Linked DNA regions of Homo sapiens: regions 2 and 3 are each linked to region 1. Evidence: fine-mapped expression QTL. A gene starts in region 1. Each other region holds a variant in brackets. All regions are shown on one strand. Distances are from middle to middle.

Region 1 (10,061 bases):
ATTTTTGAGATGGAGTCTCACTCTGTTGCCCAGGCTGGAGTGCAGTGGCGCAATCTCAACTCACTGTAGCCTCTGCCTCCAGGTTCAAGCGATTCTCTCGCCTCAGCCTCCCAAGTAGCTGGAATTATAGGTGCCTGCCACCATGCCCAGCTAATTTTTGTATTTTTAGTACAGATGGGGTTTCACCATGTTGGCCAGGCTGGTCTTGAACTCCTGACCTCAGGTGATCCACCCACCTCGGCCTCCCAAACTGTTGGGATTACAGGCATGGGCCACCACGCCTCGCCTCAGCGCCATTTTAGACACAAGAAAACTGAGGCACAGAGATGCAGAGTCACCAGCCCACAGTCACACAGTGAGAGAGGCAGGGCCGGGATTTGAACCGGGCCACTAGATCTGGAATCCCTACTTTTAGTGACTCTTTCCTTGCCCCCAAGCAGCCAGCACAGGGCTAGGTGGAGCATCGGTGCCAGGGGTATCTGCTCCCCAATGGATTCTAATCTCCTCAGGGCAAGGCCTATGTCCTCTCTGTCCAGCACAGTAAATTATTACCCCTACCTGAGGACACTGTGTTCCAAGACCTGGTCCCCACATGAAGGGCTTGGAGATGGCTAAGATGAGGGGCTGCATCACTGCACTCTGGGGAGCAAAGGGGCTCTGGCTCTTGGGGAGCACAGCAGGATACCCTGAATGACTTGGCTGGGCGGGTGGGTGCCCATGAGGCCAAGAGGGGCTGTCTTTGCAGACCACCCTGCCTCTGGCCACTCCTCACTGCTTATGTAGTCTTCCCAGAATTGCATGAGGACCACGCAGTTCCCCCACCCTCAGCTCTCTGCCGTTCACGTCCAGCCCAGCCCTCTCGTGATTCTCATGGCCGCTGCCCAGTGAAGCTGGCCTGGCCCGCCAGCTGGCATCGGCATCCTCGTTTTCCAGGTAATAATACCGCAGCCAGCGATCTCTTGAGTGCTGCTCAGGTGCCAGGCACCCTGTGTGCATCCTCTCATTCAACCCTCTCTGCAACTCATTCCATTCAAAATTCTCCCCCATTTGATCACACCTGGAATCCGAGCACTTTGGGACATAGAGGCAGGAGGATCACTTGAGCCCAGGAGTTCAAGACCAGCCTGGCCAACATAGCAAAACCTCATCTCTATTAAAAACTTTTTAAAAAATTAGCAGGGTGTGTTGGCTCACGCCTGTAGTCCTAGCTACCCAGGAGGTTGGGGCAGAAGGATCCCTTGAGCCCAGGAGGTTGGGGCTGCTGTGACCTATGATCACACCACTGCACTCCAGCTTGGATCACAGAGTGAGACCCTGTCTCAAAACAAAAACAAAAACAAAACCTCCCCATTTCACAGATGTGGAAACCGAGGCTCAGAAAGCTGACTTCCTGAGGTGGTCCAGTTACTACAGAAAAAGAAATCATCAGGGTTGGGCGAGGTGGCTCACGCCTGTAATCCCAGCACTTTAGGAGGCCAAGGTGGGTGGATCACTTGAGGTCAGGAGTTCGAGACCAGCCTGGCCAACCTGGTGAAACCCCATCTCTACTAAAAATACAAAAATTAGCCGGGTGTGGTGTCGGGCACCTGTGGTCCCAGCTACTCGGGAGGCCGAGGTGGGACAATTGCTTGAACCCAGGAGGTAGAGGTTGCAGTGAGCCAGGATGGCACCACTGCACTCCAGCCTGGGCGACAGAGTGAGGCTCCATCTCAAAAAAAAAAAAAAAAAAAGAAAAGAAAAGAAAAGAAAAAGGAATCACCAGTGTGCCTCAAGTAGCCCTGACCACACCAAGGGCACCAGGCAGACCCTTAGAATGGGTCTGAGCCAGCGGCATCCCCCCAGCCAGGTCTTGGCTCCCTGCCGTCCTCAGGACCAAGTGCCAGCTCCCTGCTGTGCCCTCCCACCTCACCTCCACCTGGCCTCCCTGCCCAGCCTCTGCCCCGTTTTCATCTCACTTCTTCCAGGGGGCACCCACAGTGCCTGACTGTTCCCACTGCCACCTCTCAACACACGCCAGACACTCACACCTCTGAGCCTTTGCTCATGCCATTCCCTTGGCCCACAACGCCCTTCCCACCTTTCTCTACCCAGAGATCTCTGGCAGCTTCCTGTCGTCATCTCTTCCAGTAACCTCTCTCTTCCTCCTGGGCTGGGACCCCTCTTTCAAACCTTCCTAGGACCCAGAGCGGCTCCCCTTAGCACTCCTTAGACTGAAAACCCCCTCAGAGCTGCAGCTCCTGGGGGTGGGGGCTCTCCCCTCCATCCTTCTGCTGGGCTCCATGTCTGGATCTTTCATAACTGCTCCCCCTCCCCAAACGACACGCCAGTGCTCACAACTCCCCCATCAAGGCGAATCTGGACTGGTGTGTCCCAGGAATGAAGTGGGGAACCAGGGAGGAATCCCACTGGGGTAGTGTGTCTGCCCACACCCCATCAGGGGCCTTCAGGGGCATCTTCCGGGGCTGGGGGTCATCCGACCTCAGACCACTAGGTCTGGCCGCGCGGCATCCCTTCCTGCTGCACCCCAGCTCAGGAACCCCACCATACACACACCCAGGCGCACTCCCCTCCCCACTCCCGGTTCCAGAACTCACTATTTGCAGATATTTATAGCGCCCTCCCTCAGCCAGGTTCCCTCCCCCGCCCTGGGCAGAGCAATGCAAGGAGCCGGGGGCCCCCACCCCGGTAAATGGCCGGGGGCCCTCTCCACATTTGCCTCTGCCTGGTCCCCAGGGGTAGCTACGGCCGCAGCCCCCGCACCCGCCCAGCCCCCGACTGCGCTTGGGCCTCGGCTGCCGCCGCCGCAGTCTGGGGTCGGGGGTGGGGAAGGCGGGCGCGGAGGCCTCCCACCCCAGCCCCGCGCCGCGCCGGAGGTTGTGGGGGAGCCGCGCCGGAGGCTGGGGGGTGCCGCGCACAAAGCACGGCTCGAGCCCCGCGCCTCGGGGACGTCCCCCGCCCGGCCGTGGGAGGGGGTCGGGCGCTGAGGCTCTGCCCTCCGGGGACCGGGGAGCTCGGAGGAGCGGCGGGTAGGGGGAGGGGGCCCGCGCCGAGCGGCTTCCCCGGCATCCCGCCCCCACCGCGGCCTCCGGGCCCCCAGCCCCAGTGCGCCCGCGCCCGCCCCCTAAGGTCACGCTCGGGGAGTGGGCCGCGGAGCCGGGCGGGGGGCGCCAAGCGCAGCGCGGGAGGGCGGGCAGCGCGGGGATAGAGGGGCCGCGGCGCCCCCCAGGACGCCGGGGTCAACTCACCCATCGCCCGCTGGGTCTCAGCAACGGCGGCAGCAGCGGCGGCGGCGGCTCCGCGGCCCCCGGGGTCCCCGGCGGGGAGATGCTGGCGTCCGCCGCAGCCTCTCGCCCCATCCCGGGCTCCGGCGGCAGCGGCTGCGGCGGGCGCCCGGCATCGCAGGCAGCGCGGCCCCGGCCCGGCCCCGATCCCCTCCCCCCACCCCCACTTCCACCCCGTCCCGGGGACCCGGCGCGGCCGCTCGGCTGCACCCCGGGGCGGCGGCGGGGGCCCGGCGAGCGGACGGGCGCGGGGGAGGGACCGCGGCGGGCGCGCGGGGGGCGCGGAGGCGAGGCCGAGCGCGGCGCGCAGGGGTGCCCGCTCCCGCCGGCTCAAGCGGCTCCGGCCCCCACCCCGCCCCCTCCGCAACCCCCTCCCCTCCCCCGCCAGCCGGGCTCCGCCGCCGCGCCGGGCCGGGGGCGCCTCGCACCGCAGACTCCGGCCGCCGCCGCCCCGCGCCGCCCGCGCGTGCTGGATCGAGTGTGTGCGTGTGCGAGCGAGTGTGTGTGAGTGCGAGTGTGCGCGCGCCCCTCCTGTGACCGTGCGTGCGCCGGCCCACGGCCCGGGGCGGCCTGCGCGGGGGCGTGTGCGGGGAATGCGGGTAGTTCGGAGTGCGGGCCTGGTGTGCGTGCGGGGCAGCAAGTCCCGTTCTGTGTATGCGTGGACGGGTGCGTTCCGCAGCGTGCCCGGGTCGGTGTGACTCCGTGTGCCCGAGTCTGTGCCTGTGTGTGCATGGACGTGCAGATCCGTGTTGCGGTGTGTGCGTGGATGCGCCTGTGCCCGCGTGAACCTGGGCCGGGATTTCGCATAGGCATCTGTGACCATGTGCAGAGGCCTGGGCCTGTGATGTGTGCACGGTGCCGGGCCTGTTACGGTGTCTGCAGAGTCTGTGTGTCTGCTTGGGGCGTGGGTGACCGCTGTACACCGGCCTGTGTCCTTCCGTCCGACCCCCTCCGTCCCTCACATGCCCGAAGCCACCTGCGCACTCCTGGGGTAACTGGGGGGGCCTCCCCTCCCCCGCCCCCCTCACCCGGCCACCCTAGGCCCGGTCGGCCCTGCCAACCCTCTTGAGCCTACTCTCCTGCCACTTGCCCACCAGCGGTTCTCCGAGGGCCCACCGTGTCGTGCCCTGGCTCCTCGTGGCCTTGCTCTAGGCCATTCCTCTCAGGGCTCAGAGGCGTCCCCCACGTGTTTCCCGCCTTTCAAGTGGTTCCGTTCTGGGGCCTACAGAGCAGCCACTTCCTCCCGCGGTGCGAGGCACAAGGCATTGTGGGTACGCAGCAGACATCTCTGCGCCGCCATCGTCGAAGGTGCAGGGATGCGCTACCTATTCTATATCCCAGCGAATGTGCTCCAGAATAGTCCCAGAGGCCTTTGCTGAACCATCCGGGCTGCCTAGGGCTGGTCTACCTGCTCCAGGTGCCTCCGTGCCCAGCTTCATCCATCCTTGCTGAGGAGGCAGAGTGATCCTACTCCAACATTCACTTGAGCAGGTCACTCTCCTGCCTGCACCTTCAATGGCTCCCACTTGCCCTCAGCTTAAGTTCAGTGCCTGGGCGGGGCACAGGGAGCCCCTGGTGACCTAGTCTTGCCCCCTTCTTCAACGTCACCCTCACTGCTCTTTTCTTCCTGGAGGCTCTCTCTAAGCAAGGGTGGGCAAACCATTTGCTTTAAGAGATTGATTGTAAATCTTTTAGGCTTTGCCAGCCATATGGTCTCTGTCCCAACTACTCAACTCTGCCATCGTAGCATAAAATCAACCATAGACAATACGTAAAAGAATGAGCCTGGCGGTGTTCCAATAAAACTTTATGGACACAAAAATTTGAATTTCGTGTCATTTTCACGTGTCCAGAAACATTTTTTGATGTTTTCCCAACCATTTGAAAGTGTAAGATCCATTCCTAGTTCCTATCACTCTAAGCACATTCCATTATAACATCTCCATGGGCCGGGCATGGTGGCTCATGCCTGTAATCCCAGCACTTTGGGAGGTTGAGGCAGGTGGATCAGAAGGTCAGGAGTTCAAGACCAGCCTGACAACATGATGAAACCCCATCTCTACTAAAAATACAAAAATTAGCCGGGTGTGGTGGCACACGCCTGTAATCCCAGCTACTCGGGAGGCTGAGGCAGGAGAATTGCTTGAACCCAGGAGGCGGAGGTTGCAGTGAGCCGAGATCATGCCACTACACTCCAGCCTGGGCAACAGAGCAAGACTCCATCTCAAAAAAAAAATAAATCATCTCCATGACATGTGCTTAAGGTAATTGTCACTCCCCCAAAATCCAGTCTATTCTGCCCTGCAAAAATGTTGCCCTCCTCCTCTCCCCAGCCTGGCTGTTCAACCCTCTCTGCCCCTTCTTCTCCGGCCCCCAAAGAACCTTCAATTTCTGCTCAAATGTGTCCCCCTCCCCCAATTCCCCATGCCACAGCTCTCCCTGCCTGGGACTCATTCCCCTCTGGAAGGGACCGCCTCACAGACACTTTCCTTCCCCAGAACCTTCTCTCCCTCCCTGAGCCTTCAGCAGCAACTCTGGGCGTCCCTCAGCCCATGAAAGAAGTGCTGTTTCAAGTCTGGATTCTCCATTGAACTCGTTCTGAGCATCAAGAAAACCTTGACATTGGCCCCCAAGCACGAAGGCAGGCACAAAATAATCACATTCCTCCATTTCCATTGCTCCTGGCAAAGGGGAGGAGGACCTGCCCAAGCCCCAGCCCCTGCCCTTGAGGCCCAGTGAGAAGTAAAGACACGCCCCACTCCCCAGGGAAGCTGCCCTGCCCAGAGCTGGCCAGGGTCAGGGGACTTGCTTGCTCTCCATCTTCCCCCAGCTTGGGTCTTTGTTCTCCTGACCTTTCCAGATTCCCAAGCTTCTTGGGAGGCCGAAGTGGAGTCAGCCTTGTTGGGTTCATACCAAAGTCCGCCTCCATGTCCTCAATGCGGCACTCAGTGTGTTGGGCGCTGTGTGGCAAGTACATCTTCCCCACGCCCAGCCTGTCAGAGATAAGTAACTTGCTCGGTCACACAGCCACAGCTGGGCACACCAGGCCCCACCCTCCACCCTCCCAGCTCAGGCCCTGTGGTGCCAGAAGCCTCCCTCCCAGAGAGCTGGCCAGAAGGGTAAACATCCCCCAATTCCTTCCTCCCACATGGCCCCTGTCACTCTTTTCCCCTCCCACATTCACAGAGGCCTGGCACACAGTAGGCACGGAGGTGCTCAGCAGGTGGAGAAGCTGAATCCCAGGGAGCTTAAGACCTGGGTTCTATGCCAGCTCGCCAAGTGTTCCAGTCATTTCAATCCCTAAGCCTCAGTATCTTCATCTGCAGAATGGGACGAATCACTGCCCTGACATCGCATTGACATCAATGGAATCTGGTTCTCTCCATCCTCTCCCAGCCGTCCTCCAGGCCCCACGATGACGTGGGGGAGGCTGGGGCTCCAAGCTCCATGGTGATATGGGGGAGGGTGGTTGGTGGCCCTCTTGCCCCACTGCTCCTCTAGGGGCTGAGCTGCCTGACAAGGAGGCTGTGGGAGCTGGAGGTGGGAAAAGCCCAGATACAAGATTAGCCAATCTCAGGCGGTGTCTCCTTACAGCCCTGCTGTCCCCTTTCACCCAGGCCTTTTTGGCTCTGGGAACAATTGCTAGGTCTGTTACCCTTTCAGCAGCTGCTGCCTGGCCTGTGGGAGCCGCATTCCACCTCCCTGGGGCATCTCACTCCTGGCCCTGGGTCTCCAGGTGGGGAGGCTCCTCACCCATGCCATGAAAACCAAGCCACAGGCCAGGCGCAATGGCTCACGCCTGTAATCCCAGCACTTTGAGAGGCCAAGGTAGGCGGATTACTTGAGGCCAGGAGTTTGAGACCAGCTTGGCCAACATGGTGAAACCCCATCTCTACTAAAAATACAAAAATTAGCCGGCCGTGGTAGCACATGCCTGTAGTCCCAGCTACTGGGAAGGCTGAGGCACAAGAATCCCTTGAACTCGGGAGGTGGAGGTTGCAGCGAGCTAGGACCGCACCGCTACACTCCAGCCTGAGCAACAGAGTGAGACCCTATCAAAAAAGAAAAAGAAAAAGAAAGAAAGAAAGAAAGAGAGAACCAAGCCATCAAGCCCCAGCCCTGCCAAGGCTCCAGGTGGTCAGGGAGCATGGCGGTGCAGTGGGCAGAGTGAGCTGGCTCCGGTCGGGGCCCTCCGAGCTGCGCCAGGGCTCCACACTCAAAGCCTAGGCCCATTGGTCTGCAGAGTGGGCATAAAGGTGGCCACCTGACAGCGTGTGGGGAGGGTGAGGGAGGTGGGATGTGTGACAAGGTGGTGCTGGGCAGCACCGAAGGTGTTTGATAAAGGGTCCTTTGAGAAATTAAAATGAAATCCCAAGCCCCCCAACAGCCCCCCGTCTTGGCCAAGGGAACCCCAGAGAAACCTTGAAAGCTGAGTGCTTGGCTACAACAGAATGGGAGGTCAGACACTCCTCGATACAGCCCCTCCTGAACCCCTTCCTTAGGGAAGAAAGCCTGCTGACGGTTAGGGCTAGCCAGAAACCAGCCCTTTTGAAAGACTTCACCACTGATACCAACCAGCTGTCCGATGCTATCCCTCTTTTGCAGTTTTGACACAATAACTGACCATCATCCCTTCCTGATAAGAAACCATTGTCCAGACAGTCTAAAGTGGACGCCCAGTGAAGGTGTTCGTCAGAGATAAGTGACTTGCTCAGTCGCACACAGCCAGCCCTGGGCACAGCCGGGCACAGCCAGGCACACCAGGCCCCACCCTCCACCCTCTACCCTCCCAGCTCAGGCCCTGTGGTGCCAGGAGCCTGCCTGAGAGCTGGCCAGAAGGGGACACAGCCCCCAATTCCTTCCTCCCACATAGCCCCTGTCACTCTTTTCCCCTCCCGCATTCACAGAGGCCTGGCACACAGTAGGGTCCTGTGCTTCACCTTTTGACATCAGAGGGCTGAAAAACACCCTGCGATCACACTAACGCCACCATTTTTTTGCATGTGTGACTCACTAAGGGGCATGAAGCTTAATTGCACAGGTCCCTGTTTCTCCTTACATCAATATTCATGACTCCCCCTATAGCTTATTAAATATGTATATTCAGCCACCCTGCTCTGTATAAATTCCTGTTCCCTTTGCCCCTCCCTTGAAGCATGTGTTCCTGGCTTCTGGCTGGAAGCTATGCTTCCCAGCCTGTCAGAATGGCTGCCCTGCAGGCTGCAACCCTTTATGAGAAATAAAGCTCTCCTTTCCAAATTTGTGAAACTCATTGTTCTTCTGTTGGCGACTTCCTTCCCCAACACTGGCCAGGTGAAGTCAGATCTGTCCCCTTTCTACCCTCCCCCACATACACTCCATTCAGCTGAGCTTGTCCCATCCACTGGCAGCCCTCTGAAATGCTTGCAATTTCTCTGCCTTTTTTTTTTTTTTTTTTTTTTGAGACGGAGTCTCACTCTGTCACCACGCTGGGGTGCAATGGTGTGATCTTGGCTCACTGCAACCTCCGCCTCCCGGGTTCAAGCGATTCTTCTGACTCAGCCTCCCGAGTAGGTGGGAAGACACGTGTGCACCACAATGCCCAGCAAATTTTTTGTATTTTTAGTAGAGACAGGGTTTCACCAAGTTGGCCAGGATGGTCTTGATCTCTTTTTTTTTTTTTTTTTTCTTGAGACGGAGTCACTCTGTTGCCCAGGCTGGAGTGCAGTGGTACAATCTCGGCTCACTGCAAGCTCCGCCTCCCGGGTTCACACCATTCTCCTGCCTCAGCCTCCCAAGTAGCTGGGACTACAGGCGCCCGCCACCACACCCGGCTAATTTTTTGTATTTTTAGTAGAGACGGGGTTTCAACGGGTTAGCCAGGATGGTCTCGATCTCCTGACCTCGTGATCTGCCTGCCTTGGCCTCCCAAAGTGTGGATTACAGGTGTGAGCCACCGTGCCTGGCCGGTCTTGATCTCTTGACCTTGTGATCCACCAGCCTCGGCCTCCCAAAGTGCTGGGATTACAGGTGTGAGCCACCGCACCTGGCCAGTTCTCTGGCTTTTTAAAATCTCTGTACCTGGCATATCTGTGTTCTGCCCAAAACGCCTTTTTGGAAAAACTCCTACTCATCCTTAAAGACCCAGCCCAGGTGTCTCCTCCCCTCAAAGGCCCCTGAAGGGCTTCTGGTTTCCAGGAGCCCTGCTTGCCTCCATTTGGAGAATTCTCACCTCAAGGCCTTTACTGCTACTGGGTTCTGCCTGGAGTGCCCTTCCCAGCCCAGCCCAAAGAGCTCAGCTCAAATGCCACCTCTCCAGAGTCTCCTCTCACTCCCTTTCTTGGGACCTGAGCACTTCCTGTCTGCTATCCTGGGCTCCTCACCTGGCCTTGCTGTGAGCTCTTGGGCAACTAGGATGAGAGAAGTTTCCCCTAGCCCCTAGCTGGTGCTGGGGACAGAGGGCCCTAAGGGAGGGGCCCCTGCTGGTCCAGGTAGGGTGTCTGGGCCAAGTCTTGCTGGTCAAGCCCTCTAGGCTTGCGTGGCATTGAACAAGTCCCTTCTCTACCATCCTTACTTTCTACACTTGCCGAGTAGGGGTAATGGATTAGATAGGGATCCATTACTTGGGGGAGTCAAGGGATCCAGCAATCTCCTAAAATTCCCAGTAGCATGGTGTGTGTGACTGTGAGCATGTGTGAGTGTGTGCATGCATGTGAACACAGGTGCATGTACACCTGTGGAAGCGTGTGCATGTGTGTGAACATGGGTGCATGTATACATGTGCAGAAATGTGTGCATGCA
Region 2 (10,061 bases), 72 kb after region 1:
CCTCAGATGATCCGCCCACCTTGGCTCCCAAAGTGCTGGGATTACAGCGTGAGGCGCCGTGCCCGGCCCTAACTTCTTAAGGACCACATCGCAGCGTGGAGCGGGTCGCTCTGAAAGGCTGACATACTCCACGGGGCTCAGACGCCCCAATCCATCCCCCATCCCTTTTGGGGTGCTGTCCTCTCCACCTGGGATTCGTTCTTCAGCATCCGACAGGCGGCAGGTGCGGGGCCTTCGGATGACAGTTTCGGTGTTTGGGGTGTCTGGGCAGGGGAAGCACGTGACGGGCCTTTGGTGCCGCAGAGTGGAGCGAACACCTGAACCGCAACGACGAAGACGGGAAGTGGACAGGGAGGCGGGCGTGGCCACTAAGGGATGACAGCGACTCCGCACACGCGGCCTGCCCTCTGCGGACCACAGTGACGTTTCACCTTCTTGAAGATTGGAGAAGGGAGCCATCAGGTGAGAGGGGTCAAGCAGGGCGGGCGGCCTGACCAGCCCCAGCAGCCCCGGCTTGGAACCCGACCCCGCTGTCCCCCAAGGGTCGGCTCCTCTCGCTGAGCAGCGGCCTCAGGGTCGGCCTTCAGGGTAGCTCGGGCTCCTTGGGTTGCAGGCAGCCCCTGCCCTCCGCACTCCTAAACGGGGTCAGAACCTGGGTGTCCTGGAACGGAGCCCCGGGATCCCTCACCCGCCCCGCCGCGCTCCTTCCCTCGGCACCCGCTACTCCTCGGACCTCTTGCAGACTCCGCTCGCCCCCGATGACCGCAATCCGATTGGCTTAGCATCTCTCTCGCCCGCCCCTCTCCCGGGCGTGGGCAGGGCCAGTACCTTGACCGACGGGCCATGCCCAGGCCACGCCCACTTGCTCCTCCCACCCGGCCTGGGCTCCAGAGCCTTTTCTGGTGGGATTTTTTTTTTTTTTTTTTTTTTTTTGAGACAGAGTCTCTCTCTGTCGCAGGCTGGAGTGTAGTTGTGCGATCTCAGCTCACTGCAACCTCTTCCTCCTGGGTTCAAGCGATTCTTCTGCCTCGGCCTCCCAAGTAGCTGGGACTACAGGCGCCCACCACCACACCCGGCTAATTTTTGCTTTTTTTTTTTTTTTTTTTTGGAAACAGAGTTTCGCTCTTGTTGCCCAGTCTGGAGTGCAATGGCGCCATCTTGGCTCACCACAACCTCCACCTCCCTGGTTCAAGCTATTCTCCTGCCTCAGCCTCCTGAGTAGCTGGGATTACAGGCATGCACCACCACGCCCGGCTAATTTTTGTATTTTTAGTAGAGACAGGGTTTCTCCATGTTGGTCAGGCTGGTCTCGAACTCCCGACCTCAGGTGATCCGCCTGCCTCGGCCTCCCAAAGTGCTGGGATTATAGACGTGAGCCACCACACCCGGCCTAATTTTTGTATTTTTTTAGTAGAGACGGGGTTTCACCATGTTGGCCAGGCTGGTCTCAAATTCCTGACCTCAAGTGATCCTCCTGCCTCGGCCTCCCAAAGTGTTAAGATTATAGGCGTGAGCCACCGTGCCCGGCCTCGGTTCATTTGCAGATCTGTGCCTTCTTCAAATACATCTGGACTTCTCCATTCTCTCACGGTCATGGTGACCTGTCTCTTGACTACCATCTAACCAGCAGAGTGGTCTTTTGAGAGCATGCACTGTTGTGGTCACCCACCCTTCATGGCTTTACAGAGGCCTCCAGGCCCTACACTGTGGGATCCATGAGCACCTTCTGGCCTGTCCTTCCTCATTCTCCTCTCTCTCCCTTCTGTGCGTCCACTGCACCTGCCTTCCACCACTTCCAAGCTCTTTCCCAGCCGGGGACCCCTGAGTCCTGGGTCCTCCCTGCAGAACTCACCAGCTTGGATAACTCACCAGCCCACCCGCTCACGTCCAAACCCTGCTCATGGAGAGCGCTTGAGTCGAGGGTCACCTGCTCGACCGGTGGTGGTTGATTTAGTCAGGGTGATCTAAATTGCATCGCATATTCTTTCCAACCCACTCCAGCACTTAGCACAGTTGATATTTTTGCTTGCATGTTTAGTTAACAGCATTTCCCCCACTGCGTGATCATCTCCAAGAGGGCACTGTCTACCTCCTTTGGTGTTGAACTCCTAGCGCCTAGCAAGTTTCTGGTACTTTACAGGCTCTGGGTAAATTTTTTGCCGGCTCGGGGCAACTATATTTAATTTTTTTTTTTTGAGACGGAGTCTCACTCCGTCGCCAGGCTGGAGTGCAGTGGCGTGATCTTGGCTCACTGCAACCTCTGCCTCTCGAGTTCAAGCGATTCTCCTGCCTCAGCCTCCAGAGTAGCTGGGACTAGAGGTGCTGGCCACCACACCCAGCTAATTTTTTTTTTTTTTTTTTTTTTTAGATGGAGTTTTGCTCTTGTTGCTCAGGCCTGGAGTGCAATGGCATGATCTTGGCTCACTATAACCTCCACCTCCTGGATTCAAGCAATTCTCCTGGCTCAGCCTCCCGAGTAGCTGGGATCACAGGCACGTGCCACCACGCCTGGCTAATTTTGTATTTTTAGTAGAGACGAGGTTTCTCCATTTTGGTCAGGCTGTTCTCAAACTCCCGACCTCAGGTGATCTGCCCACCTCAGCCTCCCAAAGTGCTGGGATTACAGGTGTGAGTCACCACGCCCAGCCACGCCCAGCTAATTTTGTCTTTTTAGTAGAGACGGAGTTTTACCATGTTGGCCAGGATGGTCTCAGTCTCTTGACCTCGTGATCCGCCCGCCTAGGCTGCCCAAAGTGCTAGGATTATAGGTGTGAGCCACTGTGCCCAGGTTTTTTGTTTTGTTTTGTTTAGACACGGGGTCTCACTATGTTGACCAGGCTGGTCTTGAACTCCTGGGCTCAAGCAATCCTTCCACCTTGACTTCCCAAAGTGCTGGGATTACAGGCATGAGCCATGGCACCCAGCTGAAGGCCAGTCAATTTAAAAACCATGTCTTGTAAAACATGTGTATGTAAAAGCATGGAAATGGTCTGGAAGGAATGAGGCCAAGCATCTAATCTTGTTTACTCCTGGTGGTTGGGGAAGGAACCAGGATAGGAAATGGTGATGGGGCATGTATGTGGACATGTGCACATGTAAGCTAAGAGACTCTGGCTTCAACTGTAATAATTTTCCTTTTTTTTTTTAGATGGATTTTTGCTCTTGATGCCAAGGCTGGAGTGCAATGGCACAATCTTGGCTCACTGCAACCTCTGCCTCCCCGGTTCAAGTGATTCTCCTGTCTCAGCCTCCCGAGTAGCTGGGATTACAGGCGTCTGCCACCACACCCGGCTAATTTTTTTTTTTTTTTGTATTTTTAGTAGAGACAGGTTTTCACCATGTCGGTCAGGCTGGTCTCGAACTCCTAACCTCAGGTGATCCACCCACCTTGGCCTCCCAAAGTGTTGGGATTACAGGCATGAGCCACTGCAGTCGGCCAATTTTACTTTTTAAAAAGATAATATATTCATAGGTTCATTGTGTAATGAAAAATTAACAAACAATAATAACCAAGTAAGACATGGCCTGTCTAAGGAGACAAACGGGATGGAGCATCCAAGCCAAACGCAGAATGAAGAACAAAGAAACACGGTGACACACTTGCAATCGCTGGTGGGTTCTGAGTCTTCACTTTATTACTATGTCACCAGAAGTCACCACCTTCACTTGGTTCACCACAGATGGATGGATGTCATAAAGGAGGGTGCCACGGGGCCACTGGATTCACTCGAGACTTAACCAGGTGGTGGGGGGGTCTAGAGTGGGGGCCCAGGATGGGGACCGCCCTTCACCGCACACACACGCACACACACACACAGATATATTTGTGGAGCCTTATATTATACATCTTATATATAGAAAATATATATATTTATACTATACACAGGCAGTAACGCTGCGGGAGGGGCCGGGGCACCGACAAGGGCTGTGCGCACCAGGACATGGGGAGTGTCAGGTCAAGTGCATCGCTGGGAGGCAGCCGGCCCAGTCCCTTCTCCCATAAACTCCTGGGAGGGGCATTCCCCCTTTCGTGCTCCTTAGAGAATCAAAGGGGTCTTGGGCCAAGGTTAGGGGTCTCCCAGGGCTAACAGGCAGGGTGTCTCAGTTACATGGGGAAACCTGGGATCCCCGAGGCTTTGAAGATCAAGAATCACCAGGGAAGGATGGAGTAGGGAACTAACGTCAGTCCCCTGGGAATTAGCCCCTCAACTGCGACACCCCCAGGTGGATAGGAGCCGTGCAGGCAGGACAGTCTGTGACTGCCCAGGATGAGCCAACTCAGAAGGCAGAAGACCTGACTCCTGAACCTCTCCCTCTGTGCTTGACCTTGGACAAGTCGCTGTCTCCCTACCCCAGACTCTGCCGACTCTAAGCGTCCTTGCGACTCTACACTTATGTGAAACCTTTTTTCCTGGGCCCTCTCTTGTGCTTGATGGGGAGGAGGGAGCCACCCTGCAGGGTCCAGCTGCAGGAGGGCCCTTCTCCAAGGAAAGCTTTGGGAGCAAGGGAGAAGTAGGGGAGGGCAGCTGGGAGGAAAAGGGATACCGGACAGAGTTGGGCCTGGGGTTCCCCAGGGGCTGTCCTCTGCCAACAGAAGGAGCGAGTTTCCCCATGAACCTTCCAGGGCAGAGTCAGGAGCCCTGGGTCCCATCCAAATCTCGCCCTCCATCTCTCACCCTCTCTCATCTCCATCCTGGGCAGGTCCCTGCCAGAGCCCAGCCTGATGGGGAAGATCATGCCTGGAAGGGCTTCTGGGCTGAACCCGGGAAGAGTGAGGGATTCTTCGTGAGATGACTCAGCACCCCCCATTCCTGGCAGGAGTCTTGACAGCTTTCCCTGCCTAGGGTGGCAGGCAGGGCCTGTCACAAACACCCAAGATGGAGTTAAGCTTACCTGGTACCCTGCCCTCCGGCTGAGGATCACCAGCAGCTGGCTGGCACCCGAGGAGAAACAGATGGGCAGTACCCTGAGGTCTCCTAGTGCCCATCAGCAGGAGAGGCTTTTGGTGGACAGTGGGTGAGGGTCAGAACATCTCACAGCCTCTTGTGGTGGGCACAGAACTTCACTCTGCCATAAACACTCCTGCCCTCACTCAC[G/A]CCCTCACCTTTGGCCTGGTACAGGTTTCACTCTTCAGGCCAACAGATAACCTGCCCCCATGCTGGTCCCATGTGGGCCACCTGGCGGCGGGGGACTGTGGACAGAGCCCCTTCTCCGGATTGGAAAATGAAGTCAGCAACAACCAGCTGTCACACAGCTGGCTGGGGTCCTCTCCATCACTGCTGTCCTTTGGGAGGACTTGGACACACCTGAGTTTAGATCCGTGTTCCACTGCCAACTCGCCTATGCTTGCCGAGCCTCAGTTTCCCTTCTGTTAAATGGGGATAATGGTGCTACTTCTCTGCTTAGGACTTCCTCCTCTTTCCCTTAACTCTGGCCCAGCTTTGGGGCCATCGAAGCAGGGACCACCCATGCCCTTGGTATCTCCAGCACAGGGGCCGGGTAACTGCTGAGTGAGTAAGCAGGTGAGGGATCGCCTGCCTCTTAGGATTCTTAGATGGGGGATGGGGGGATGGTGGTGAAAACACCCAGCACTGGGCCCGTCCACCACCTGCTCTGCTCTGCTCCCTGAAGGACAGGCCAGTGGACACTGGGTGGACAGGGGGATGGGCCCCCAGCGCTCTCCCATACCTCCCTGTCCCTTATGGCTCAGTGAAGAGCCCACCTTGTGCAAGAATCGACCTGCCCCCACTCAGAAGAGATTATGACCTCCTCAGGCCCCACGGCCCTCTTTGGGCCTTTGGGTCACCTGCCACACTCTCCCCTACAGCCCATGGTCTTCCCTGGGCCTCCCATGCCTCAGGGGCTCTTGCCTGTGTCATCCTGGGGGCAGTGTCTCTCCACGGCCACAGCCCAGGAGCCGACCTGGCTGATTCCAAAGCCCTGTCCTTGCCGCTCTGCCTCCCATAGGGAGGCTGGCTCCACAGTGGGCCTTCTGGAAGGCCAAGGAAACACCTCTCATGCGCTTGGCTGCTGCAGCCCCCGAACCCTGACTGACCCCAGATGAGAGGAGAGGTGACATAGTGTCCCAGATCAGTTCTGTTTCCTGGGAGGTCACAAGGGCAGGGAATCGAGGCACCTGCTGGGCAGCTGGGGCCAAGAAACCCAGGCGTCAGGGCCAGCTTTGCCACTCACTCACCGTGACCTCGGGCCAGTCACACCCTCATCTGTGCCTTGTTGTCCACCCAGCCCTAGGTAAGGGCTTAGTGACCCCTCCTAGAGGCAAGGACAGTGATCAGTCCTTTGAGAGACCACGAAGGGGTTTGCTGGAGCCCCCTGGAACAAGCGTCTGTGGGACACGCAGAGCACAGAGCAGCACCCGGGGTGAGCCCTCTTGGAGGAGGCCAAGGGCCAGGGGTAGGACCAGGGGGATGTGGGTGGAGGGACCCGGAGGTGGGGCTGTCCCCAGGGGAGGAGGAACAGCTGGGGCAGAACAGGCCCTTGGCATGCAGCAGAATCAGGGTGTCTCAAGGGGCTGAGGGCCCCAAGGCCTCCCAGAATGACAGTAACACTGAGCAGGGAAGCCCCAAGCGTGGGGATGGTAGGAGGTGGGTGGCCAGGGAAGAGCACGTGGTCTGCAGTCGGGCAGCCTGGGCTTGGCCCCACCTCTATCACTAGCTGCCTGAGTGATTCTGGGCAAGTAATCTTGACCTCTCTAGACCTCAGTTTCCTCAACCATAAAATGGAGACGGCCCTGACACTCTTAGCAGGACTGCCAGAGCAGGGTGACAGCCCCCAGTGTCCTGTGGGTGTTTACACTCACCCTATGACCAAGCCACGGTGTAGCCACACTTCCCAGCATTATCTGGATCTGTCTTTCCCACCATTCTGGCCTCTGGTACCACCAGGGCTTCCTCCACAGCTCATCGCTCCCCTTTCCAGTGGCCATTTCTGCCAATGTCACCACCCATGCCCAGCACAGGCCGGATGCCCAGTAGGCGCTCAAGGAATGCTTGATGACACAATGTATGAATGCAAATACCCCTGGCCCCCACCCTCTAGGCCCCTGCGGGGCACATGCCCTGGGATATACTTGCACATACGTAGACAGTCCCCAACACTGGACTGCCCCACCCCTGCCCCGAGCTACCCTGGACCTCAGTGGGACAAGGCAGAGGCTGATGAGGCGCTGGGCAGGGCAGCCTGGGCAGGAGCAGGGGCTGGGTGTGGAGAGAGGGGACAGATGGGGAGGGGCGGGGGCAGGCGGTCACTGTGGCTCAGTAGCCCTGCGACTGGTAGCCCTGGGGCTCGGTGTCGAAGGTGTTGGCCGGCTGCTGGTAGGTGCCGCCCATACCGGCGGGATCCGGCCCAGTGGGCTCCACGTAGGGCGCGTAAGGCATGCTGGAGTCCTGGCTGGGGTCCATGTAGTCCTGGGAGAAGAGGGCCGAGTCGGCGCCAATCTGGTACCGCTGGAAGGCCAGCACAGCCTGGCCCGCCTGGGGACAAAGGCCGGCGAGGACAAGGACAGGCGGGAGGGGGTGGTTAGGGGAGAGACAGACAAGAGCACTGGGTTAGTGGTGGTTAGTTCACAGGACACAGGCAGGAGAGGGTTAAAGATCCTCAAAGCACCAAACATGAGACCAAGCTTGGCTGTGGAGAAGGAAGGCTGTTCTCGCAGCCACCCCCGGAAATGCCCAGAACCATATCATCCAGCCAGAAAGTACCCCAGAAATCACCTGCCCCTGTCTCCCAATCCCAGAGGTCAGTCTGGGCTACCAAAAGTTCTAGATCTCCATTATGGAGTGTTAAGATGGCTCAAAGGCTCACAACAGCCTTCTTAAAAAAAGCTTCTCAGCGGGACAAAGGACTGTTAGCATCTCCTAAGAGTCATTCTTTTGTCTCTCTTGCAGCTAGGCATGGCCATGTGACTACGTTTTGGCCAATGGGGTACCCTCATGTTCTCTGTCCCACCCTCTGACCTGATGCCTGGAACACAGATGTGATGGCTGGAGCTCTAATTGCCAAAAGGGACCACAAAGACCATGAGCCAAGTCTGTAGGAATGAAAGATGCCTGGGGGCCATGCACCGCGGCTCATGCCTGTAATCCCACAACTTTGATAGGCCAAGGTGGAAGGATTGCTTGAGGCCAGGAGATCAAGACCAGCCTGGGCTAAAATATGCACCTCTGGCATATTGACTATGTTGAGTTAAAGGCACTTGAAAAACAGCAGGCACAATAACAATCTGATCTTCTTCTTGAAAGCAGGAGAGGCCAGGCGCGACAACTCATGCTTGCAATCCCAGCACTTTGAGAGGCCAAGATGGGCAGATTACTTGAGGTCAGGAGTTTGAGACCAGCCTGGCCAACATGGTGAAACCCCATCTCTACTGAAAATTAAAAAAATTAGCTGGGCATGGTGGCATCACCTGTAATCCCAGCTACTCGGGAGGTGCAAGCAGGAGAATCGCTTGAACCCAGGAGGCGGAGGTTGCAGTACCCTGAGACAGCGCCACTGCACTCTAGCCTGGGCAACAAAGTGAGACTGTCTCAAAAAAAAAAAAAAAAAAAAAAAAGGCCAGCTTGGGCAACATAGCAAGACCCCATCTCTACCAAAAAAATCCACAAAAACCAAATTAGCCGGGCATAGTGGTACTGGCCTGTAGTCCCAGCTACTCAGGAGGCTGAGGTGGGAGGATTGCCTGAGCCTATGGGTTTGAGGCTGCAGTGAGCTATGATCCAGCCTGGGCAACAGAGTGAGACCCTGTCTCTAAAAAAAAGGAAAGATGCCTGGGTCACCGAAGACCTCTGGAGCCAGTATGCCAGCCCTGGACCACTTCCACAGCCTTGGACTTTGTTGAAATCACTGTTATCTGGGATTTCGGTCACCTGCTGCTGAACCTAATTCTAAGTGAGAAACTGAGTTAAATAGAGTGAAACAAGTTTCAGGATCATCTGACTTGGCAGAGCCCTGACTATTCAATGTGACCGCGCCTAGCCTGAAGCCGCCCCGTTTTTTTTTTTTTTTTCACAGATCTCAGATTGGGAAAGACTTGTCTACAGCACACATGCATGGTTAGGAAATTATTTTTCAATAAAAGCAATTACATTGTTATTAAGGACAATGACACTGACCACACTGAGCTAAGTCAAAGTTTAAGTAAATCAAACTTGTCATTAGAAAAGCAGCTTAGAGGTTTATTGCAAAAGCCTTCTCCAGAAACTTTCCCGGCCCGGGGAATCTGCCTGTGATGGGAATGTGCTGATACTCTCCAGACCCCTGTTTTAGGGCTGGGAAGATTGAGGCCTAGAAAAGGAAGTGCCCGTGGCAGAGTTACTGCTAGAACCCTTCCCTAAACATGGGGTCCTACCCCTTCCCAGGTCAGGGCGCCCTCACCTCCTTCCCTTTCACTGGCCCCTGACGAGGCACTAAGTCAACCAACAACCTAAAGAGCCACTTAGTGAAGAGGTAGAGAGTGAATATACCTAGCGTTTTATTCCACAAAGTTCCAGAAACCCAGTGACTGGGCATTTCCTTTTTTTTTTTCTTTTTTTTTTTGAGACAGAGTCTCGCTCTGTCACCCAGGATGGGGTGCAATGACACAACCTTGGCTCACTGCAACATCTGCCTCCTGGGTTCAAGTGATTCTCCTGCCTCAGCCTCCCAAGTAGCTGGGATTACAGGTACCCGCCACCACACCAAGCTAATTTTTGTATTTTTAGTAGAGACGGGGTTTTGCCATGTTGGCCAGGCTGGTCTCAAACTCCTGACCTCAGGTGATCCGCCTGCCTTGGCCTCCCAAAGTGCTGGGATCACAGGCATGAGCCACCATGCCCAGCTAGGGCATTACCTTTTGATTGTACTCATTGACCAAAGTTCTGAGGGGAAGCACTTTCTGGGAGGTGGGTATTTAAAGCAAAGTGCCAGCACCTTGGGAAAGGCAGACTAGGTCTAAAGAAATTGGGCTAAGGGATAAGGTGTAGCCCTCTGGGGTTTCCCACTATGTTAGCATGAGGTCCTGGCTGCTGGGGGCTCAGACGCCGGAGCCTGAAGAAGCAGGGGAG
Region 3 (10,061 bases), 21 kb before region 1:
CTTTCTAGCAGTGCCAGGCATGCAGAACTACTATGTGCCTGTAGTTCTAGCTACTTGGGAAGCTGAGGTGGGAAGACTGCTTGAGCCCTGCAGGTCAAGGCTGCAGTGAGCTGAGAGATCGCAATTCTGCACTCCAGCCTGGGCAGGGGAGTGAGACTCTTATCTCAAAAGCAAAAATAACAAAGCATTGACAAACCATCAGGTGTAACAGTAAAACTATCACTGAGGCTGACATGCCAGACACTGTCCTAAGCTTGTTACACACGTGACTGTACTGAATCCTCCCAACACGAAGCAGGTACCCTTGTATAAGGAAACCGAGGCCAGGGAGATGATGTCGCTTGCACAGCATTGCACAATAGAAGGATCATACTGGATCCTATAGGGTCAATCACGGGGTTGTATCCAGTGGTAAAGCTGTCCTGAGCCCCTTCCAGCTGCCAAGTTCAACCCAAGTAGAGTGACAGAGCCCCTGAGGAGTCCACCTGTGACCAGTGAAGACAACCCAGTGGATGGTGCAGCCCTGGGGCATTTGATCCATACAACATGCCACAGGGTGCTCACCCAACCCACGTCACTCATTCACTCAGCAACGATTTTGCCAGAGCCCCGTGTGCCAGGCACCTCGGTGGGTACTGGGAACATGGGGAGACAGGACGGACCAAAATCCCTGCCCTCAGGGAACCTGCTCAGCACCCAACAGGGTAGGGAGCCTGCGTAAACTACAAACACACTAGTCAGCTCAGAAAACTGCGCGCCCAAAGAGGCTGTGCTCTGGAGAAAGACAAAGCGGGTAACGGGCAGGAGCGAGTGCGTCATTATGTCCAGTGATGAATGGAGTGGGCAGGGCAGGCTCACCGAGGAGGCGACGTGAGCAGACTCCACGCAGGAGAGGGCGCCAGGGAAGAATGTTCCAGGCAGAAGGCACAACCAGTGCCCTGGCAGGAGTGTATGTGCGCCAGTGAAGAACAGCAAGGCGGGTGGGACGGAGCAAGTGAGGGGACATGGGGGGCAGGGAACAAACCCAGATCACAGGGCCTGGAGGCATGGTTCGAAGTGTGGCTTTCACTGGAGGATTCAGAGAAGGGAGGCCATGGCCTGACCTTGGTGTGAATGGCTCACTTTGGCTGCTCTGCTGAGAATGAATGGGCACTTCAAGGGCAGGGCAGGGGAAGCCAGGAGGCCACACTGAACTGCCCAGGTGAGTCAGGGTGGCTTCCACCAGGTTGTAGGGTGTAGAGTGTGCTCAGATTCTGCTGGATTTGCTGAAGAGCTGGATGTGAGCAAGGCAGCACACTGGGTGGCCCCAGGCACTGGAAGAATGGACCAGCCCTTGACTGGGGTGGAGGAGGCTGGCCCTATCTGGCAGACCTGGGGCTTGCAGCCAGCATCTGTCTCTGCAGGGCCTAGCCCTAACCACTACTTCTCCTCCTGCAGACACCAACAGTGAGGCTGGGCGTGAAGGACATGGCCAAGGTCAAACACTGGCTAGCAGCAGGTCCTGGGCTAACCTTTGTCTCTAGATCCAAACCTCAGGTCCTCTCTGCAGCATGCTGTCTAGAAGCTTCACCTGAGGGATGGGCGGGGTGGGATATGCTTTGTCTGTGGTCCCCCTGTGGCCTCAAAGCACTGTGGGGGACATCGTCCAGCCCACTGTCCCACTCCCACCTACTTCCCTGGATGTACGTGGCTTGAGGTCCTCCAGCAGCTCAGGAAGCCAGGAGGGTCACTGTGGTTAGGACCTACCTGGGGAATAAGGTTAACTGAGCGAGGGCTTAGGGCCTTCCCTGGGCTGGGCGCCCTCTGTGACCCAGGCAGGCAGCTCTCTGAGGACAAAACCCCTCTCCAGCTCCTTCCCACCACCAAGGCTAATCTCTGTTAGCACAAATGCCATACTCTGGCTCTTACTCAGTTCGTTAAAATTCACCTAGTATTTCTCAGATGCCTGCTCTGTGCCAAGATAGCCTCCCTGGAGCCAAAGCACCTGCCTCTGCCCCAAGCCAGAGCCCATCCCGAACTCTCCCAACCTCCCCCAGCTCCTCATCATCATCAATGTTCCTATAGTCACTATGAACAGAGCAGGTCACCTGACCTCTCTCAGCCTCAACTCCTCCATGTATAAAATGGGTATCATTATCTCTGCCCTGCTTATTTCAAGTAAGAATCAGAGAGAACTATGCACGGCCCCAGCCCCAGTCAACACTAGGCTCATTTTCCCCTAGATGTCTGTCTTCCCAGCTGGCATATAAGCTCCCTAGAGCAGGGAATGTACACAGCAGGTGCTCAATGAGATCACCCCGCACTGCCCTGGGCCTCCACAATGCCCTCACCATCACTTCCATGTGCTCGGACTCCCCAGTTCAAATCCCAGCTCTGCCACTCCTATCTGTGTGGCCTTGTGCAGGTTAAGCACTTTTCTGTACCTCTGTTTTCCCATCGATGAGATGCCTAGCACACAGTAAGCACTCAATGATAAGTGCTAGCTCTTCTATTATTATTCCCCAGCCTGGCAGAGAAGAGAAAGAGTGAGCCTTTGGGTGGGGACACACCAGAAGCAGAGGCTTGGAGGTGAGTCCCTGGCAGGGCCTAAGCCTAGGTGGGTGCTGTCCTATCTCAGGGCAACAGGGAGCAAAACCTAAACCTGCTGTGGGGAGGGGCCAGGGGCTGGGAAGCCACGCCTCCTGAGACTCCAAGAAAAGGGGGGCTTGAGGCTCCACCCCCACCCCGCTGCCAGACACCCCGTAAGTTGTGCCCAGCCCCAGGGGCCTGTGACTTTTTAAATTTTTTTAGACAGGGTTTTGTCTTTCTTTGTTACCCAGGCAGGCTGGAGTACAGTGGGGTGGTCAAGGTTCACTGCAGCCACAAACTCCTGGGTTCAAGTGATCCTCCCACCTCAGCCTCCTAAGTAGCTGGGACTACAGGTGTGTGCCACCACTCGGCTGATTTTTTAAACATTTTTTTGTAGAGAGGAGGTCTCCCTACATTGCCAAGCTGGTCTCGACCTCCTGGGCTCAAGTGATACCTCGGCCCCCCAGTGTTGGGATTGCAAGCGTGGGCCACCGCCTCTGGCCGGTCCTGGGTCTGTTGGGATAGGTGGTAGAGCATGGGCCAGGTGCTTCCTGGCAGCCAGGTGATCCTGGAAGAGGGAGGCTGAGGCTGACCCAGGATGGCAGCAGGCAGGCCTCAGGCAGTGGCCATGGCCTGGAGGGTCTGAGCTGGACAGATTTCCTTCTTTCCCTCCCTCTTCCCACTTCTTGTGCCATTTTTCTCTAGCTCTGCTTGGAAGCCTGACGGGCTGTGAGGGAGGGAAGCTGATGAGCCCAAACTCCATGACCCAGCCATGACCTCATAGTCAGGACTCAGGTGGAGCCCAGCCAGGGGCTTCTGGCCAGGGAGAAGGGAGGTGCTCTCTGGAGGCCACTGGCTGTGATGGTGGGAGCTGGCCAGGCAGGTAGCAGCCTCCCAGGTGCAGACTCACACTGACAGCTGTCGCTTGGTGAAGGGCGGCTCCTGTGGAGCTCTCCGTGGTCCTGAGCTTGCCCGTGCTGGCCAGAGTCCTAGCTCAGTCCCCAGGGTGCCCTTGGCTGGCCTCACCCTGGCCCCTGCCACCCACCTCCGTGGTTCAGACGGCTCATGTCTTAACAGCCGGTTCCCCTGTCCACCACCCTCTGGCCCCTTCTCCGCCTGCCCCTCAACACCTGATGTCTGGCGTCTTCAGCTGGGGGACAGCCACTGGGCACTCCTCCAACTGGGAGAAGGGGCCAGCTGTCACATGTCCAGCAGTAAAGCAGGCCCAACACCCAGTGGGCACTCAGGGCATCCCTGTAATGTCCATGAGGGGCATTTTGGAGGATGCCAGAAACAACCTCAGTCTCTACTTCTGGGCAGGAAGTAGCCCATCCACTGCCCCCAGCCCTGGTACACCTTGGGGTGGACCCGCACTACCTCTCCAGGAGTTAGTTCAACTGTACGAAAGGGCTTCGCGCTGAAGCCCGTCTCCCTGTGCTCACCTTCCACCCGGCCTGGTCCTGCCCCATGTGACCTAAGGGCTCTGCCACCTCCAAAAAGAAGGCAGGAGGCACATCTTTGCAGCAATCCCTGCCATGTACAGCAGCTCCTGGGGCACAAGGTAGGCCAGTGGCCACAATGGCCAGATCCGAACACTGCTTGTGGCCTTGGCAAGTCACTCTGCCTCCCCGTGCCTCAGTTTCCCCCTCCACGATACGGAGGTATAACCGTTTCTGTCTCACAGGGTTGTTGTGAGAGTTGAGTGAGTTAATCCCCGCAAAAAGCTAGGGACCATGCCTAAGCACACAACAGATGCTCAGGACACGCCGGCTCCACTGTTACTGGAAGTCTGGAGGATTTGGTTTGAATCCCAGTGCCATGACTTACTTGCTGTGTGCCCTTTGGCAAGTTACTTAGCTTCTCTGGTCCTCAGTCTTCTCCGATCTAAAAGAAAGATGTCACCCTCTGTTTTGCAGTCCTGTGGGAGACCTGGCTGAGCCACGGTGTCAAAGCATTCTGCATGGAGCCTGGCCATTGGCAGAGGTTCTATAAATGCATGGTTTTTTTTTTTTTTCTTTCCTTCCATTTGGGTTTCCCGCTGGACGACCAAATACAGATGACCCCCTGAATATGCCAGGCCTTGCTCCTGACCGGCTTTATT[T/A]CCTTTAAGAAAGGTAACAAAGACACCTTTGTTAAGGTACAAAAGGAGGTGGGCCAATTGCGGGGCTGCTTCACCCTGACTGGCACCCTCAGCCTGTAGGGCCTTTCTCAGTAACTCACCAGGCATTCAGGACCTAGGCCAGAATCTGCGGAATCCGGCCCAGCCGAGGCCTGCAGACTCCTCTCCTGGGTCCAGAGGGCCTGCAAGTAAGAATTTGGTCCAAGGCTTCACCCCAGGCCAGTGCCTCTGCATGTCCACTCCCACGGGCCGCCCATTCCAATCCCTTTGGGCTGCTAGAAGTTCTTCCTTCTGTTGACCTTCATCAGTTTCCCTGGAGCTTCTGCTACTGGTTCCTTCCCTGGGGTATGGCAGAGGGAGTCGGCATCTCAGGAGTCAGAAGACAGTGAGCACCTCCCCGGACTCTGAAACTAAATGCAGCTTGAGGTTTCAGGATCCCACATGGGGAGACAGGTAGAGGCGGTGGCTGCAGAACATGGCCGATCCTGGAGTCCCGGCGAGACTGAAGAAACAACTGCTGCTCTGCTGTCCTCCCCTCTCATCATCTGACTCACTCCTTTGACTGACAACCATCCACAGGGACGCCTACACAAAGTGGTCACTCTGCAGTCGACGTATCATCCCAGCTACTGGTGGTCATCGGGGACGCAGATATGTGTGTCTCCATTTTGCAGATGAGGACATGGAGGCCTCAAGAGGTTAAGTGACTTGCTCAGCCACACACAGCTGATGGGAATGAAACAGACGGAAACGGAGACTCCCCAAGCTGACAGGCGGACTACAGATCTGGGGGTTCTGCTCCAGGCTCAACACAAGTGGCCTGGGCGAGGGAGGGCCTGGTAGACCATGACACCCAGCATCGAGGAATTCTGCTTCCCCAGCAGGCTCAGAAGGAAGAAGTCTGCTTCAGGGGCCAGGCCTGGTCAAAGACTCCATCTTCCCTGGATGGCCAGAGTCAAATCCTTGCAAATCCCGTTCACCATGGAGCAGGTGAGACAGCTTCTGCTGTGCCCACCCATGGATGAAGAAACTAGGCCAACAGAGGAGAGACAGAGCTACAAGGGGAGCAGTTCTTAGATTAGGCAGGCAGGGTTCAGGAAAGACAGGGTGCCCAGGCCACCAGAATACCCACGAGAGTCTGGGCCTCATGGAGTCAGCCCCACTCTCTGCTGGCTCAGCTCCAGGGTGGAGGCCTTGCCAAAGGCTCAGCCCAAGACCCATCCCAAGAGCCCTTTCCATGGCAACCCCACCCCTCCCCCACCTCCAGTCCCTGTGCACCACTCTCTCCCCTCCAAACCCATCCCCATCAGCTGATCCCAGCTCCCTGCAGGCTGCCTGAGGACTTTCCCACGGAGTGGCCGGCAAGTGCCTGGGAAAGTTGGTTCCCAAAGCTGGGATCTACCCCTGCTAGGACTCCACCCCTCCTGCACTGGTCACTGGTCCATTCAGGACATCAGCTCCTCATCCCCAGAGGCTCATTCCATAATGTTTTTGTTTTTGTTTTTTAGAGACGAGACCTATGTTACCCAGGCTGTATGTGAATTCCTGGACTCAAGCAATCCTCCCATCTCAGCCTCGTGAGTAGTTGGGACAAGTCTCACACCACCATACCCAGCTTAATTTAATTTGAATTTTAATAGCTGCATGCTCTAGTGGTTCCTACGTTAGACTGTGCAGTTTAGACTGAACGGAGAGGGCAGGAGGCAGGGAGTCAACCGGGTCCATCGTGCCAGCACCGCTGGAGAGATGGGGCTGCACTGAGGGAGGACCCTCATGGGGACAGTCACAGAGCTGGAGCAAGGGAGCATCCCAGGGCGCCAAGCCTGAGAGACGGCCCGTGATGAAGGGGAGGGCCAGGGGCGGGGCAGTGGTGAGCTGATGCCAAGGTCTTGGCTGAGAGAGGCTCATAGAGCATTGGTTAACTACAGGAGGGAGGGATGCAGCTCTGGGGGGCTGCCTGACACCAGGGTGCAGGGGCATTAGGCAGGTGATTGGCAGAAGGAGACCTCGGGAGGGGAGGTGGGCTAAAGGTGGGCCTCAGGGCCCGATACACAGATGTACAGACACATCCCATGGACTGGTCCCATGGGCACTGAGGACAGCTCTTTCCCAGCCAGGTCCCTGGAACTCCCCTCCAGGTGCCCCAGGACCTGAGAGAGAGGTGGAGTGAAGGGGGAGAGAAAACAAAGCCCAGGGACTCGCCCCCAAAAAACACAATCAAGAAGATGCTCCCAGCTTTTCAATTTCAGACACTGAGCTCCTCGCAAGATTTTGTTGGAAGGAAAGCTTCTACAGTTAAAAAAAAAAAAAAAAAAAAAAGCCTGGCAAGCCCTGCTGTGAATTCATCCCTCACTCCACACCAGCAGGGAGATGGAGGCCCTGAGGAGGGGGTGATTGGTGAAGGCCGCACCACAAGCAGAACCCAGGCCTCTCTGACTCCAGGAAGGCAGGGGCGCTGGGCTGGGGCTTTTCCATCTCGGATCCTCAGTCCCCAGTCCAGGCAGAGAGGGACCTTATCAGGGAGCAGAGGGCGGATGTCCCAGCCGGGGCTAGTGGTGCATATGCACATTTCAGGAGGGCCCGAGGGCTCTGACTGCCTCTTACACACAAAGCCTGGAATGGAGAGATGTAAACTTGGCCTGGGGGAACAGGCCAGGCCAGAAGTGAGCAGTGGCTCCTGCCCGAAGCACCCAGAGCAAATATTCAGTGAATGTTTGGGATTAGCCAGAGGAATGAGTACTGCTGGTGGCATTTCAGGCACAGGGCTCTTTATCTCTCAGGGAGAGGAAAAGGGTCCCCTCTGCAGGGCCACACATGACCACAGACCTGCTGTGTGCAGAGCCAGGAGGCAGTGGGAGCCCGTGAGGGCTGGGCCAGTGTGCAGGGAAGGTGCTTGGGGCTGTGAGAGGGTTGGGGGTGATGTGAAGACTGTAGCACTACTGGCCTCGCTTCATTCCACCCCCACAGGCACACAGGGCCTCAAACTCGCAGCTGGCAAGTGACAGCAGCAGAGTCCACACCCACCTGCGGCCTTGGGGCTTCTCAGAGTTTCAGGGGCAAAGTCCAGGCTGCTGCCTTCAGCCTTGCCCAAGGCAAGGGTCCCTCTCACCCCCACTGCCATCAGGACCCCATGGGCCTGCCATTTTCAGGTCACAGGGCTCTCCAGCTCTGGTAGATGATCGGATTCGCTGCCCAGGAAAGCTGCATCTGCCCATCCTGCCAACCTCCTAAGCCCCTCACCAGCCTGAAACCATGTGAGCACCCCGGTGGCACACTGCAAGGCCAGGCTGAAATTATGTTTCCCAGAGCCCAGAGTTCCCTGCAAGGCCAAGGGTACCCAGGGCAGCCCTTCCCACCACTACCCAACTCCAACAGGAACGGGTCACCCTGGACAGTGCGCCGTGTCTGGGTCTCCTGCAGCTTAAAGGAGGCTCAAGGTCCAAAAAGTCAGGAAAACTCCAAGGTGAGGCCCAGACTCCAGGAGGCTCCGGAGGCCCTGGATCCTGACCCACACTGCAGAACCTTGCCCTGATCTACCCTGGAGCTGGCACTCCACATCCATCTGCCCCCTGCCCACACACCTCCATCCAGGCTGCCCTCCTCATCCATCCCCCCTCCTCCCCTTAACTTCCATCCCCCCACCCCCATTATTTTCCCCTAGCCCCGATCACCCGGAACTTGGAGACAAGCAAGCGAGGGGTCCCATGCCACCTGCACCACCTCCTTGGGGAGTTTGTTTGCTGCTGTCTGCCTGATCCTGGCCTCCAGCTAGCCTGGCCTGGCCACAGGCCCAGGGATCCCCAAGCCCCTGTGTCCACAGCTTCCCCTTGCCAGCCTGTAATCATGTAGGGGGTGCTATAGTCTGAAAAATGTGTCCCCCAACGTTCACATGTAGGAAATTTAATCCCCAGTGCAGTGGTGTTGAGGTGTGGACTTTAAGAGGTGATTAGGCCGTGAGGGCTCCACCCTCATGGAGGAATTTATGCTGCTATTGTAGGAGTGGGTTAGTTATTGTTCCTGATAACAGCATGGGCTCAAAGTGGGTTAGTTATCGTGTTCCTGATAACTGCATGCGGTCAGCCCTGCCCGTCTCCATGTGTGGATACTTCTGCCCTTCTGCCATGGGATGACGCAGCATGAGGGCCCTCGCCATATGCTAGCTCCTCGACCCTGGACTTCCCAGCCTCCAGATCCGTGAGAAAGTTCTGCTGTTTACAGACCACCCAGTCTCAGGTATTCTGTGGTAGCAGCACACACAGGACTAAGGAGGGGAATGAGAGGACAGCACATCTGAGGCCTCCCCGAGAGCCGCCCTCTGACGGGGCTGTGCTCAGTATCTTAGCTGTTCTCTAATCTCGTGTGGACATCCGCCTCCCACTGCTATTTCACAGAGGAGAAAACCGAAGTTCAGTGAGTCAAACTGACAAGCCCTGGCCCTCCCTGTGAGTGACATGCATCCAACCCTTCCCTGTGGCCCACACTCCCCAAGACTCCAGCCCGCATTGCAGCTGCCCGACCCCTGCCTGGGCCCCTCCCAGCCATTGCCGCCTCCTTCCCTCACCGGCCCATACCTGCCTTGAGGCACAGTGTCTAGTCCCCTCTGCCTGGCTTTCAAGGCTCTATGGCAGCAGTTTCCTCCCTAGAGGCTGAGCCCAGGTGTCAGTTAGATGACTGCAGGAGGAACTAACCTTGTCCCGCCAGATGCTGGCCCTGCCCTCCATCTGGGCTGGTTTCCTGGCTCCACCTCTTTCCAGCTAGGTCACCTCACCTCTCCAGCCTCAGTCTCCTCCTTTGTGAAACAGGTAACCAGGCAGCAGTGAGGGGCAGCCCCACCCTCCCAGAGCCACTCCTAGGTGCCAGGTGCTTGAGGAGGTAGGGACACTGTGGTTTTACAGGTGGAGAGCCTGTCAGGGCCAAGCGCTCAGTAAAAAGCAGGTCCATCTCTTGTGAGCCTCGCCTTGCTCCCTCTCTGTGTGGGAGGGTTCCCGAGAACTGCACCCCGACTCCCAGAGGGGCTACTGGACATTCTCAGTGGGACGAGGATAGGGAACCAAGGAACACTATATGCATGGAAGAGCTCAGAAATACACTCTCGGCACGGCGGGACCCCGAGTCTCTGACAAAGTACCGGGCAGGGACAGGGCGGGGGTCAGGGAGCCTGAACCCACACTGCCTCTCCTGCAAGGGGGCTCAGGAGTCCATAGCCTTTTGGAGGGAGTTGGGTCTCTCTGGGAGTGGGGGCAGAGGCTGGATTCTGCCCACAGGAGACGGCCAGACAGCTATTGTACTGCTGGCTCCAAGCCCAAGGGTCCACCCTTAGCAAGGCATTCATTCCTCAGTGTGCAGAACACCCCTCTTGAGGGTGAAGACAGAA

Evidence for each region.
Region 2: its variant is fine-mapped to the expression of MGAT3 in whole blood (INTERVAL, PIP above 0.99).
Region 3: its variant is fine-mapped to the expression of MGAT3 in testis (GTEx, PIP above 0.99).

What each region holds. Positions count from the first base shown.
Region 1 is chr22:39,450,742-39,460,802 of GRCh38, reverse strand. It overlaps MGAT3 (beta-1,4-mannosyl-glycoprotein 4-beta-N-acetylglucosaminyltransferase), which reads right to left and starts at 3,791. Exons shown (of 2, transcript NM_002409.5): 1 at 3,246-3,791. RefSeq lists an enhancer at 2,146-2,345, silencers at 2,666-2,795, 2,806-3,075, 3,806-3,865 and a cis regulatory region at 7,687-8,235.
Region 2 is chr22:39,379,128-39,389,188 of GRCh38, reverse strand. SYNGR1 (synaptogyrin 1) reads right to left here. Exons shown (of 4, transcript NM_004711.5): 4 at 3,614-7,493. The coding sequence ends at 7,275. Among named protein-coding and RNA genes, the nearest start is that of TAB1, 16 kb to the left of the region's middle. RefSeq lists a silencer at 4,111-4,405. The variant G/A (reference allele first, on the strand shown) is at 5,097.
Region 3 is chr22:39,472,074-39,482,134 of GRCh38, reverse strand. All of the region lies in intron 1 of MGAT3 (beta-1,4-mannosyl-glycoprotein 4-beta-N-acetylglucosaminyltransferase), which reads right to left. It overlaps MGAT3-AS1 (MGAT3 antisense RNA 1), which reads left to right and starts at 5,313. Exons shown (of 2, transcript NR_126469.1): 1 at 5,313-5,677; 2 at 6,196-6,328. RefSeq lists enhancers at 3,188-3,689, 7,327-8,256 and a silencer at 8,422-8,779. The variant T/A (reference allele first, on the strand shown) is at 4,670.